4 separate regions of the Homo sapiens genome follow, and regions 1, 3 and 4 are each reported to be linked to region 2. Evidence: microRNA targets listed by miRTarBase, many of them from high-throughput screens and not tested one by one. Region 2 holds a microRNA gene; each other region holds the end of a gene's coding sequence.

Region 1 (3,156 bases), not on the chromosome of region 2:
CCATTGACTTAGGCCTGGAAGGAGTGATGGAACAAACATTTATTGGGTATCTACCCTGTGCAGAGATACTGCCAGCCTGTGAGTTTTTAGGATTGGCTAAACAGAGTAGTAGTAAAAAGTATGTTAATGGTTTTTCATCATTTTTACCTGGTATATTCTCTCTGCAGAGTCACTTATTTCAGCAATTCAAGGTGATATTGAAGAAGCTAAGAAACGACTAGAGTTACCAGAACATTTGAAAATCAAAGAAGACAATTTCTTCCAGGTTTCTAAAAGCAAAATAATGAATGGCCACTGATGAAAAATTGTATTATTTATTCATTCACTGTTTTCTAGTGTTTCTGTGTTTATTACTGTTCAGCATCATCTTGGTTATATACTGAAAATCAAACACTTTACTACAGTTGTGAATTAGTTTAAACCGTACAATGTTGTTATCATATCATGCTTCAACTATTAAATTAAGCCCATCATATCATAGCACTAAAAAGATTGAGTTAAAAATAAGATTTAAAAAATATATATTGATTAAAATGTACCACTAGAAAGGTATTACATGTGTATAAGTATGGGTAAAAAGGCAAGTCACTAGTTTGAGATGAAAACTAAAATTTTCATGGTAAAATGCCAGCATGTATGTACTTGTGTAGTGTGTACTTCTAAACAGAGAAGGCTTATAAAAGTAAATGCATTAAGGCCAAGTGCAGTGGCTCACACCGGTAATCCCAGCACTTTGGGAGGCCGAGGTGGGAGGATTGCTTGAGCTCATGAGTTCAAGACCAGCCTGGGCAACATAGCGAGACTCCATCTCTATAAATAAAAAAAAAGGAAATGCATTAAATAGAAGGTTGATAGTTTATCATAAACCTGCGGGGAAGAAACTCAGACTTTCTATTTTTGATATTTTGTGCATTAATACATTACAAACATGAAGATGTTTGTAAAGTTTTGTTTTAGTCATTTTCTTTGCAGTCACATCATTGTACCACCTTCATTATTGTATAGAGCTGCTTCAATTCTGAGTCCTCTGGACTTCCCCTGCCTATCTGTTTGTTGTTGTTGTTGAAGACAGTAAAATAAGTGTTTTCAAATCTATATGTCTCCTTTTTGTTGGATAATGTTTCTTCTTTTTAATGGTAAATATTCTTGTTCTTCAACATTTTTCTTTGGTTCTTTTTTCCTTTTTTAGGAAAAACAAAACAACAGACTTCATCCTTAGGTTTTCTCAAGATTTAAGTGAACACATTTACACATATCAATTTCTTAAAGAACACAAAATGTTTCCTCCCTAGCAAAACTATTTAAGAGCCAATTAAACTATGAAATAGTTATAAAATTATTTTTAATATTTAAGGCCTTGAAATTATATTCCAAGGCAAATCTAAATGGGTGTAGTTGTATATGCACGATGTAATTTAATGCTAAAGAGTACTTACAGCTTGAGGGAAAAGCATAAAGTTTTAGTTAAATAGCCTTCATACTGTGGATTTTTCCTCCTACTAACTAATATGTGGGAAATTAAGATTACAGATGCTTTGGGCCCCCTCAAACAGTACATTGCTACAGTTCACTGTAGCAACAGATTTGGTGGTGATGGGGGGATAGAGGTAGAAGCAGATAGAAGGTAATTTTAAAGTTAATTTATTATGAATCATTTTCCCCTAATCTGCATAAATGAATTAGAACTGATTTTAATAAAAATATTCTGTGTAAAAAGTACTCAGAAAAACATCTAAAGCTGTTGGAGAAGAGGGACTCATATAAATAGTTGGATTGCGTTTTGCTTTTTATTTCTTTATAAAAATATGTCAAAAACAGTTTTTAATTTTAGAAATCTTATACTTGAAAGAAACCTCAATTATCAGTGGCTTTATGAAGTAAAGTTAAAAACAAACATAGGAAATGTGAAAATATTTGTGTTTGTTTTGTCTGACTAACTTGCTGCTAAATGCTATCTTTAGGTGTGTGAAAGTTCTTTGATATGTTATTGTCCTTTTACATCTTGTTAAATAGCCATTGCTTTTGAGAATCAGATAGTGTGTTGTTTAGGGGTTAATTGTGTCTATATCTTTCAAAAACTTTTATATTATGTATTATAAGAAGTTACAGTAGTACCATTTTGATTAGTCTGAATGTTTTCAGGCCTTGAAATAAATTTTGACTAAGTGATATTTTTTCTTTCCCTGTGTCAGCTTGAATCTTACTTTATGTATTTCGAATTTGTTGGCTGATTGCTACTCTTAAGTGTGTGAAGTTGCCTGAAGAGCAAGATATAGGTGGCAGCTGTAGTTCTACAACAAAGGGCCTTGCCTTCAGGATCCCCTGTGTTTTATGCCTGCAACACAGTGACTGAGGTTTATTTGGAGAGCAATCACAGGGCATCACTACTAAAGTCCACTTCCTGAGAGTAAGGGTTCCTGTTACATTTTGGAGATAGAAGAGCCAGAAGAGTATAGATAGGTCTGGGTTCCCTTGCATAACTCCTGCCCCAAAACAGAGTTCTGTAACCTTCTTGTCTTTTGCCACCAACCCCATAAGCAGCAACTTAGAACTCGTTTGCCTTTCTCTGTTGCATGCTGGTACTCTTTGAACAGTCATCCCCAGAACTCTCATCTTCCTCAACTATGGAGGCTTACAGCCTGCAGTTAGAGCTTACCATGAAACATGATTCTGATTGGGAGATGGAAGTGGAAGTCTGGTCTTCAGAGATGGAGCCAAGAAACTAACCTATTCTGCCAAAAAAGATGCCAGAAACAAATTGTAAAATAAGCTCTACAGAGATGGCAGATCCAGGGTTATCAGATATAGAATTTGAAATGACTGTTTAATATGTGTAATGAAGTAAAAGAGTAACAAAAATGGTAAAATGGCAAGGTGTTGTATAAAAATTGGGCAGCTGGGTGCTGTGGCATGTGCCTATAATCCTAGCTATTTGGGAGGCTGAAGCAGGAGGATTACTTGAGGCCAGAAATTCAAGGCTGTAGTGTGCTGTTATGGGTACTTGTAAGTAGCCACTGCACTCCAGCCTGGGCAACATAGTAAGATCCTGTCTCTATTAACATTTAAAGTAAAGTAAAAATTGGGCAGATAATTGAGAATTGTCCGAAATATATAGTTATAAAGAAAAATTGAAATTAAAAAGTCAATGGATGGGTT
Region 2 (3,156 bases):
AACCTGGGTATCTTGTCTCACAACTTACCGAAATGTCGAATTTTAGATTTAGAGTTAGACTAAGCTCTTCCTAGTTTAAGGGCCACGTCTGTCTAATAAACTTTATACAATGCCACGTGCACGCAGCTTCCTCACTAACAAATAACATGTGTTGGGGAAAAAATGAGAAAATAGTGGAAAGGTGCCTCCTTGGAGGTGGTAACATCGGGTCAATTAATCAGCTGAGTATAAATTGATTCACTTTATACAAGTCTCCCACACATTATGATGCACATTTAGCAACGCTGAAAAACAATTTAAAAGAATACCTTAGGGAGTTGTTAAAGAGAATTTATAGTCTGGAACGAATTGCAATCTTCTTAATTGACACAGAAATGTTTGGCTAAAATATTGCTTTATTCACATTTTTGTCCTTGGAGGAAAATCTAGGCACACTGCAACTTGGATCGTGTAAATAAAGGTACAAGGAATGTTTTAAGTCAGAAAAGGGCATCACGCAGTCAGGGGGCTGTGTGGACGAGCTCAATTTCGATGCATCTCGGGAGACCCGGGCAAAAGGCCGCTTGGATTCCGGGAGGCAACGCCCCCAAGTCAGGATCCCTTGCTCGCCGCCCCCAACCGGTCAGGATCCCTGGCTCGCGTCCCCAACCGGTTCCGTGTCTCACCTGGGTCCTGCAGGCGTCCACTGGAGGAAGCCGGATGGCGCGGGCTTGGTCTTTCAGGAAGGCTGGCTGGCACCGGGCTTCCTTCTGGCTCCAGGGGGAACCGTACAGGACGGGGAGAAAGGGGGAAGCTGGTGAGAGGCAGAAGGGGCGTCACAAGGTGGCTCTCCCACCCCCAAGTGCAAAGGCAGGCGGATGCGGGGACCTGTTCGCCGTTTGAGCCTGGAGATTGCGGGCCTGAGGGGCCCTGCGCTGGCCGGCCGGGGCGAGGCGGGAGCAGAATGGGGATTTCTAGGCCGCCGGGTCGGGCTGGTGGGCGGCGCCCCGGGAGCCTGAGGGTCCCCGCCGGCCCGGGAGGGACCCGAGCCGCCCCCGCGCACTGCCCCGGCGCAAGGGAGTCTGGGAGAGCCAGCGTCTCGGGCCGCTGAACCCGACTCCCAGCTCTAGACTTCGGAACCCCGGCCCCACCCCAAACTGGGAAACTTCTAGGGGCCCACTCCTGGCCCCGGGAAGCCCAGTTCCAGGCAGCCCATTCAGACCAGAGGAGTTTGGGTGTCTTTTTTTTTTCTTTAAGGTGACAAAAAGTGTGGGAAAGATTCCACACCTCCCTCCCCACGCCCGCCAATGGTCCTTTACCTGTCCATGTTTCAGATTAAATAATTAGCTCAAGAGATTTGCACAGAAAGCGAATTAGCCCTTTTCTAGTCAGACTGTTAAGCTCTCAGGCGGGCAACTCGGAACCCCGTTTCCTCACCGAAGGCTCAGGAGGCCAGCCCAGTGAGGGATGGAGGTGGCTTTAGAGGGCGACAGTTGTGCAGCACTCATGAGCAACAGTGCCCAGGACTTTTGAAGTCACGAAGGGCTCCTGAAATCGACAGCTCAGGTCCCGCCCCTGGGGCGACAAAGGAGTCTTGGGGGCGTGCCGCCGGGTTGGAATTGTGGTAGCAGATTTTTGGGGGAGGAGGGCGCAAAGCAGCTAGAAACGCACATCCTCATTCTGGAACTATCCCAAGGCCCCCATGCTTCTCAGCAGGCCTCGGGCTCAGATTGGGCGGGTTGGAGCCTTCCACCCCACCTTGGGTTCACCCGCCCGCAAGGCCTCGCGCCTCACCCGATCCTTCTAGAGTGCTGGAGCTCCACGGAGCCTCCCTAACCCCCCAGCAGCGGGGAAGGGAGGGCGAGGGAGTGGGGAAGAGGCCCGTTATTTTGATCTTTCCTGAATTCTTAAGTCCCTTCCATACCCAGGACATGAGCGCGTTTACCAGGAACCGCAGAGAGGTGTAAAGACTTCTTGCAGCTGCTCACCCTTCCTCTCCCCTTACTCCTTTTCCAGTCCTCCCCACCCCCCAGCATTTCGTGGGTGGGGACTGAAGATAGGTTTTCTTCGTTGTCCTGTGGGTGGTATTCTGATTGGGAAGGGATTTTTTTCAATTGTTTACATTCTACCTGAGCAGGGAAAGGGGGTGCCAAAATGAAGCATCATTCACGTCCAGTCACATATGCAGAGACGGGGCAAACGTTTGATGCAATCTTGGGTCTCGCTGCTCCCGGGGCCGACACCGCAGGCGATGGCCTAAGACTTACCTGCTGGGTAGGCCCGAACGGCAGTCCCAGACTTACCCTGGCAGCGGAAACAATACCCCAGAGCACCGATCGCTCACTGCAGAACTGTTCCCGCTGCTAGGGCACGGCTGAGCGCGGGCACCGCGTCTCTCCTCGACTCGCACCGCCTATGCGCCCCAGCCTAGCCAGGAATACTGCCCTCCCCGGACTACAGCCCTGCTGCGTGGACAAGGGCGAGGACCCGCCGGAAACAGAGACGCGAGCCCCCGCCCACCTACCTGCTCCTGAGCCGGCCTCGCGGGGAGCGGGCACCTGGTGGCAGGAACACGCGTCCGGCAGACCCCACCTTCTACCTTCCCCACGAGGGGGTATAGCAGCGCCTCACGTTTTGAACCATTTAGAACACTTCAAAACATGAATTGCTGCTGTATCCCCTCGGAGTCAATGAAGGGGGATCGATCTGGGGGTACCTGCGGGTGAATAAAGACTGGATGACTGAAGGAAGCCCCGCCCCACCCCCTGGCAAGGAATAGGGCAAAACTTATGACTAGGCCACTTCACTCCAAGTTAAGGTACTTCTTATAACTTCACCATTTGATTTCCAGGAGCTGCAGGTGGAGCCGAAAGTGTGGCTCTCAATTTTTTCCCCTGAGGATGAATCTTGGAACAACGTAGTGGGTGAAAAGCAGAGCGATGGGGGATACGAATTAGTGTGGAAGAGAATCTAATTACTTCTGAAGGTAGACGAATAAGGTTAAGTAGAGGCAATTGGACATCTGGATCATTCTTGCCAGTTTCAAAGTCTTGGTGAAACTTCTTCCTGCTGCATATTACAAGTCTCATTCATTGTCCCCATTAAAAAAAAACAAAAAACGAAACAAAAAAACAACCTTTATTGGAAATGGACTCAGATGACTGAAAGAAAATAACC
Region 3 (3,130 bases), not on the chromosome of region 2:
TATAGCACCATCTCAAGGTCTAAGGTCATTGGTGGAGTATTGTGGGCAGAACACTAAAGACAGCCTTGAAATTTCTAATATTTGATTCATTTAATACACTTCGCACAGGCATATGACAGCACAGGAGAAAAATTGCAACTGTGAATGATGCCACAATAGCAACTATTTCTAAACAGAATGTTTACTGGCTGCAAAAGTGATGCAACAAAATGCAACGTTAAGACTGAGTTGAACTCAGTGCTAAGTGCATGATTCTGGCTCAGGTAATTTCTGAGGTTTGCCTCAGATAGACTGATGGCTCCAAATTCAAAGGTAGTGGCATTCCCAACAGGATGGCATGGGGTGGCTAAGTAACTGTCATGGCATATCTACTAAAAGGAATACTATGAAAATTCTGGTAATTGTGGATATATGCTTGTTTTCTAGTTCATCTGTACTTGGTATTTTATAGAACTCATAATCTTATAGTTTTCAAAGTATACTCTGCAGAACCCACAGGGTCTCCACAGAGTCAATGTTTTCATAATACTATTATTATTTTTTTTTTCTCTGTGTTGATATTTGCACTGAGGGTGCAAAAGCAGTGGTGGGGAAAACTGATGGCACCTCCCACAAATCAAAGCAGGGGCACCATTGTATTCTTCACTGACCTGCACTCACATTAAACACTTTCACTTAATGTCCTGGATGAAACTAAATAGGTTTTTTTGTTTTTTGAGACAAGAGTCTCATTCTGTCACCCAGGATGGAGTGCAGTGACGTGATCTTGGCTCACTACAACCTTTGCCTCACAGGTTCAAGTGATTCTCATGCCTCAGCCTCCTGCCTCCTGAGTAGCAGCTAGGATCTTATAGGCATCCACCATCACACCTGGCTGATTTTTTATTTTTAGTAGAGATGGAGTCACCATGTTGGTCAGGCTTGTCTCGAACTCCTGGCCTCAAGCAATCCGCCTGCCTCAGCCTCCCAAAGTGCTGGGATTACAGGCATGAGCCACCACACCTGGTGGGACAGGGATTTTAAGTTTTAAAAAACTCTTCTGTGGAGCTTATGTTAGGTAATTTGCCTAAGAGAGTTGTAAAGCAGTGCAAGACTAACTAGGCAAGGGGGTATGTGTAGCTATTGAGGATTAAGGGATAGTGAAATGAACTTTAGGAACATTCTCAGCCATAAGCAAGAGCTGGATTCACACAACCAATTTTTGAAAAAAATCAAGATACCCATAATTTGGGCACCTTTATAATTCATGATGAGAAAGAGCATGTTAACTACATGTTTAAATATATTTTATTTCAAGTTAATATAACAGCCATGATTTGTTCATTTAAGTGAAATGCTTCGATAAAAACCTCGGTGTCACTTGGTTAAAATATTGGAGACAGATTAAATGTTAAGCCACTATAGTAGTGACTCTGGTTCTTTAGACTATTGCATGTACCTTGTTAATGAACTACAGGAATGCACATTGATATAATGCACAATGTCTTCACATGTCTCAATCCTCATTCCTCTTCCTTTCATGCCTCCCTAATGCCTCAGTATCCAATATAAAACTACAAAAACTACTGTTCTTTTCGTTTGAGTGGTATTTAATTAAAACTTCAATTCTATGTTATTTCCACAGTCCAGTAATTTATTTTAAATTTGAGTAATTTCAAATTCCACAAACAAAACTGAAGAACAGCAATATTTTGTTTGAATTTCTCTCTTCTGTACACTCAGTGATCTAAAACACCACAATATCCAACATACACAAACCTCAGGGAAGGGTTAGTAAACACACACAAGATTGGAATCATGGTGCTCTTTGCTCCTGAATGGAATGGTCCCACAGAAAAAGCACAGGATACAGCACAACATAAGGGCACCTGTTACATATGAAGTGAGCAAAACATACTAGCATTTTCTATATGCATAATGGGGAAACCTGCATAGGTTAGAGGGCCTTTTACGCTCATTTAAAAATCAGGCAAGTTGTCTGTAACATTTTTCAATAATCTGGGAAGCACTGCAATCCAGTGTACGATGTGCTGATTAGTGTTGTCTTTGTTGGCACTGACAGTCTTGCATGGTCATATGCCAGTGTTTTTGCTTTAGCTTTTCTTTGAATAAAACAGATTTAAATGCATTTAGACAATACGTATTTGTAAGCTGTTTACATACACTAAATTTAAGAGATTCAATATTAGAGTTTCTTTGTTTCTTTAAACACTACAGAGTGCAAATCAGGTTCTTCACAACAGATTGAATATTGAGCAGTTCTTTAAAGAAAGAGGGGGAAGAAAAAAAGCCCAAGTGAATAAAACATTGAAACTATTCCCCTTCGAAAATAAATTCTAAAATGATGTGGAATGTGAAATAAGGTTTTAACATAGGTGATCCAAGTTTATAGTTAGAAACAAAAAGAAGTCCTTCATGAAATAAAGGTTACAAGAACACGTTGCCTGTTTTCCCCCATTATAAACTGAGAAGTGGGTAAAGACGATGTTTCAGTACGAAAATAGGTGACTACAGGATCAGCGCTTCATCTCACATGCTGTACCCAAAGCCAGGCTGTGGCTGTCCATACGGTGGTGCGGTATAACCATAACCAAAAGGTGCCTGGGGAGGGACGGCAACACTGGGTCCTGCTGTCAGCATCAACTGGGGCTGACCTACAGTAGAAGAAAACAAAAAGGAGCAGGGGGCAGGGGCAAGGAGGCAGGACAAACTGTTAGCATTTAGAACACTCCAATCTCCTCCACTCTAGCAACATAATCTCAACCTCAAATGAGTTGTATGGGGGGCACATTTGATTGCTACAATTTTAGCATGACAGTCTTACTCTAAGAAGGTTCCTACCTAAAAAGCCAACAAACAGTGCAGGGCCAAAGGCCAGAACTGCTTATGACTGAACACCGTATGCCTGACACTCTGTATACTTGACACATACCTACATGCATATTACACTTCATGACACAATAAAATCAGCACAATAAAAGAATTTTTTAAAAGACTTTTTAAAAAAAAAAAAAAAAAAAAGAATCTGGCTCTGTTGCCTAGGCTGGAGTGCAGTTGTGTAATCTCGGCTCACTGAAACCTCTGCCTCCTGGGTTCAAGTGATTCTCGTGCCTCAGCCTCCCGAGTAGCT
Region 4 (3,156 bases), not on the chromosome of region 2:
AATCAAGTCTCACACTGAGTTACTAACCTGGTCATGAGTGACTGACCGTGTCTGACTGCCACTCCTTTTTGCAGGAGCATCCCCCCGGTCCTTCAGAATCCAAACACGCTTTCCGTCCTACCAACGCAGCCACCGCCACCTCACATTCCACAGCCTCTCGCAGCAACTCTTTGGTCTCAACCTTTACCATGGAGAAGCGAGGATTTTACGAGTCTCTTGCCAAGGTCAAGCCAGGGAACTTCAAGGTCCAGACTGTCTCTCCAAGAGAACCAGCTTCCAAAGTGACTGAACAAGCTCTGTTAAGACCTCAAAGTAAAAATGGCCCTCAGGAAAAAGATTGTGACCTAGTAGACTTGGACGATGCGAGCCTTCCGGTCAGTGACGTGTGAGGCAGAAGCGCACGGAGCCTGCCTGCCTCTGCCGTCCTCAGTTTCCTTTCATGAGGCTTCTAGCCAAAGATGATAAAGGGGGAAATGGTTTTTAGTGCGTATATTATACTGCCTCTTAGGTGTACTCTTTATAAGCTGGTAAACCAAGAATCTAGGGAGTGGCCAAACTAAATATAATTTCTTTAAAAAAGAAAGAAAAAGGAAAAATCCAAAATATCTCAGTATCATCTGTCTGAAGCATTGTGTGTTCTCATTCGGGTGGTAACAATGTATGTGTAATATTTTTTTCTTAGTGATTTTGACAGTTTAAATGTTTAACAACTTAAAGCATTAAAAATGCTTATTAATAACTTTGGTCATTTAAAAAATGCTACAATGACTTCCTATTAAAGGTTCAATATTTACACATTCTTATTGGTTGATATTACCACATGAAATATTGCCAGACCAAGATACCTAAACTCATGATGTCTGTGGTGCTGTAAAATTTATACTAAAATGTGGACTATTTTGAAATTATAACCATTTTTGATGCCCTGAATCTTGAGGTGACTTATTTTGCATAGAGGATATGGATAGACCAACAGTAAGGGTTGTGGGTTATACCGGCATAGAGAAAAGAAGAAAACTAGAATTGAAACAACTGTGTCTTAGACATTTGTTTGAAAAAGCTTCATCAGGCCTTGGAGCAGTCACTGCTTTATTCCGCAAAAATTATTTGGTAGGAAATTTTTGGGAGATCTGATTTTCTTATCCAAGTTTTGTAAATAGTTGTTATTTCTATATTTGGATTGGTGAAAGACCTCAAGTTTATATGTAAAGACATAACTGCCCTTAGTCATGAAATTGTTGTGACCTCTACTTTTTGTCACTAATAGCCTACATTCAAGTGCCTGTGTTTTTTCATCTTGTTTAGGAATGTTTTGAGATTAATGTGCTTAAAAGTCCTACGTGACTGATTTTAAACATTGTGATAAAATTAATTTTCAGTAGAATAGTTGAATGTGTTAAGATAGGATTTTATGTTAGAGATACCAGAATGCTGGTATTCTACTACTTGTGCAATATATATGTTTTAAAAAACAAATTTGAGAATACATTTAATCATAGGGATATAGATATAAGCACCTCTCTAAAGAATCTTTAGTTTCCGACGTTGAATTATAGACCAGTTTGAGTAAGTACTGCTTTTTTTTTTTGGAGACGGGCTCTCGCTCTGTTGCTCAGGCTGGAGTGCAGTGGCGTGATCTCAGCTCACTACAGCCTCCACCTCGTGGGTTCAAACAGTTGTGCTGCCTCAGCTTCCCGAGTAGCTAGGATTACAGGTGCATGCCACCACACCTGGCTAATTTTTGTATTTTAGTAGAGATGGGGTTTCACCATGTTGGCCAGGCTCGTCTCGAACTCCTGACTTCAGGTGATCCACCCATCTCAGCCTCCCAAAGTGCTGGGATTACAGGCGTGAGCCACCATGCCCGGCCCATAAGTACCGTTTTTGAGGTTCAGTCTTAAACATTTGCTTTAAGAAAACAGTCTTGAATTTCACATGCTGCTATTTTTATATTTTGCCATTTTACAGTACTGTTTTGTTTTGAATTCATGCATATCATTGAAAATTTCTCGTTTTCATTTTCTTAGATGACTTCTTGTCTGAGACAGAAAAATTTCCTACTACAGCAGTGCAGTCCAGAGGTTAAGATGTATTAGAATTATACAATATCAGTTTAAAAATCTGTATGCATAAAGAATGCACCACTCAACTTTTTTATTCATAAGCTAATATTTTTTTAAAGTTACATTAAGATTTTTTCTCTTTTGCAGCTACATTTGAAAGTGATAGAATAAAGAGATTTTAATGAGTTATCACTTTTTCAGCTGATATATTCATTTTAATGGCTTTTTTGAAAGTTCCTTTTTCATGAACACACCCGAGAAATCTTAAATAGACACTTTGCAATATTTAAGAACCTAATGCTGTTTAATTTTGGTACAGCTTCCACATTGCATGTTCACTTTAGTATTTGCAATTTGATATATTTCATGGTGGCAAAATATTAGCTCTGTTTTGGGACATTTTAAAATAGAACTATCCTTGTTCGATAGCATAGGAAAATGTTCTGGTGATTGTCAGGGTCTCCTAATATTTATCTCAATTCTTTTATAAGTCTATGGAAATTATTTAATTATTTTAAAACGTACACACTTTTCTTGTAAATATGTCACATCTGAGTTCAAAAAAATTACTTTGAATACCTTAATATTTGCTGCATTTTTTTCCGTATATATAACATGTCTTCTTTCAGAATGGGAATATATGTGTGCCTCCCAACATTTACTGTTAAAGTGTGTTATCTTTATATGTCAAACTGGTTGAACACTGTAATGAGAATAAACTGCACAGAGTTTATTCTGACTTATTTCTCATTTTGTTTGGTTCAGCCCTTGTGTGATGAAGTAAATACAATGATTAGGGGTGTGTTTGGTTAATTGACTTCAGTTTACATATTTAAGGACAGAGTAATTATTTGGTCATCTTTGCAAGAATAAGAAACTTCAGATCTGTGAATTCTTAATGCATCCCTGCATGTGAAATTATAGAAGGAAAAATGATTTTTTTTTGATAGGGGAAAGAACTTGCTTATTTTTCTTAATTAAAAAACATGTTCTCAAAAGCAGAATTATCATATGTTAGCCTCAGAGCATCGTGTGGATCATCTGGGCTGCTCACAGTGCTCCATGATTATTTAGACGGCATGATGTAAGGCGG

The links. The annotated mature microRNA hsa-miR-503-5p reads UAGCAGCGGGAACAGUUCUGCAG and lies in region 2 at 2,323-2,345, opposite strand. An mRNA with a match to its seed (bases 2 to 7 or 8) in the 3' UTR can be bound and repressed. Matches are read on the target gene's strand: a 7mer-m8 pairs with bases 2 to 8, a 7mer-A1 pairs with bases 2 to 7 and ends in A, and an 8mer does both.
Region 1: the mRNA of RFK is a reported target of hsa-miR-503-5p. Seed matches in the 3' UTR shown: 7mer-A1 at 1,941-1,947.
Region 3: miRTarBase lists CLTC as a target of hsa-miR-503-5p. Seed matches in the 3' UTR shown: 7mer-A1 at 835-841.
Region 4: miRTarBase lists PLEKHA1 as a target of hsa-miR-503-5p. Seed matches in the 3' UTR shown: 7mer-A1 at 1,938-1,944.

What each region holds. Positions count from the first base shown.
Region 1 is chr9:76,384,541-76,387,696 of GRCh38, reverse strand. It overlaps RFK (riboflavin kinase), which reads left to right. Exons shown (of 4, transcript NM_018339.6): 4 at 168-2,171. The coding sequence ends at 298. Among named protein-coding and RNA genes, the nearest start is that of RFK, 8.3 kb to the left of the region's middle.
Region 2 is chrX:134,544,049-134,547,204 of GRCh38, forward strand. MIR503 (microRNA 503) reads right to left here and starts at 2,350; the gene lies at 2,280-2,350. MIR503HG (MIR503 host gene) reads right to left here and starts at 2,582. Exons shown (of 3, transcript NR_024607.1): 1 at 2,504-2,582; 2 at 666-749. MIR424 (microRNA 424) reads right to left here and starts at 2,663; the gene lies at 2,566-2,663.
Region 3 is chr17:59,693,252-59,696,381 of GRCh38, reverse strand. It overlaps CLTC (clathrin heavy chain), which reads right to left. Exons shown (of 32, transcript NM_004859.4): 32 at 1-2,654. The coding sequence ends at 2,530. Among named protein-coding and RNA genes, the nearest start is that of PTRH2, 13 kb to the left of the region's middle.
Region 4 is chr10:122,429,550-122,432,705 of GRCh38, forward strand. PLEKHA1 (pleckstrin homology domain containing A1) reads left to right here. Exons shown (of 12, transcript NM_001001974.4): 12 at 75-2,796. The coding sequence ends at 389. Among named protein-coding and RNA genes, the nearest start is that of MIR3941, 14 kb to the left of the region's middle.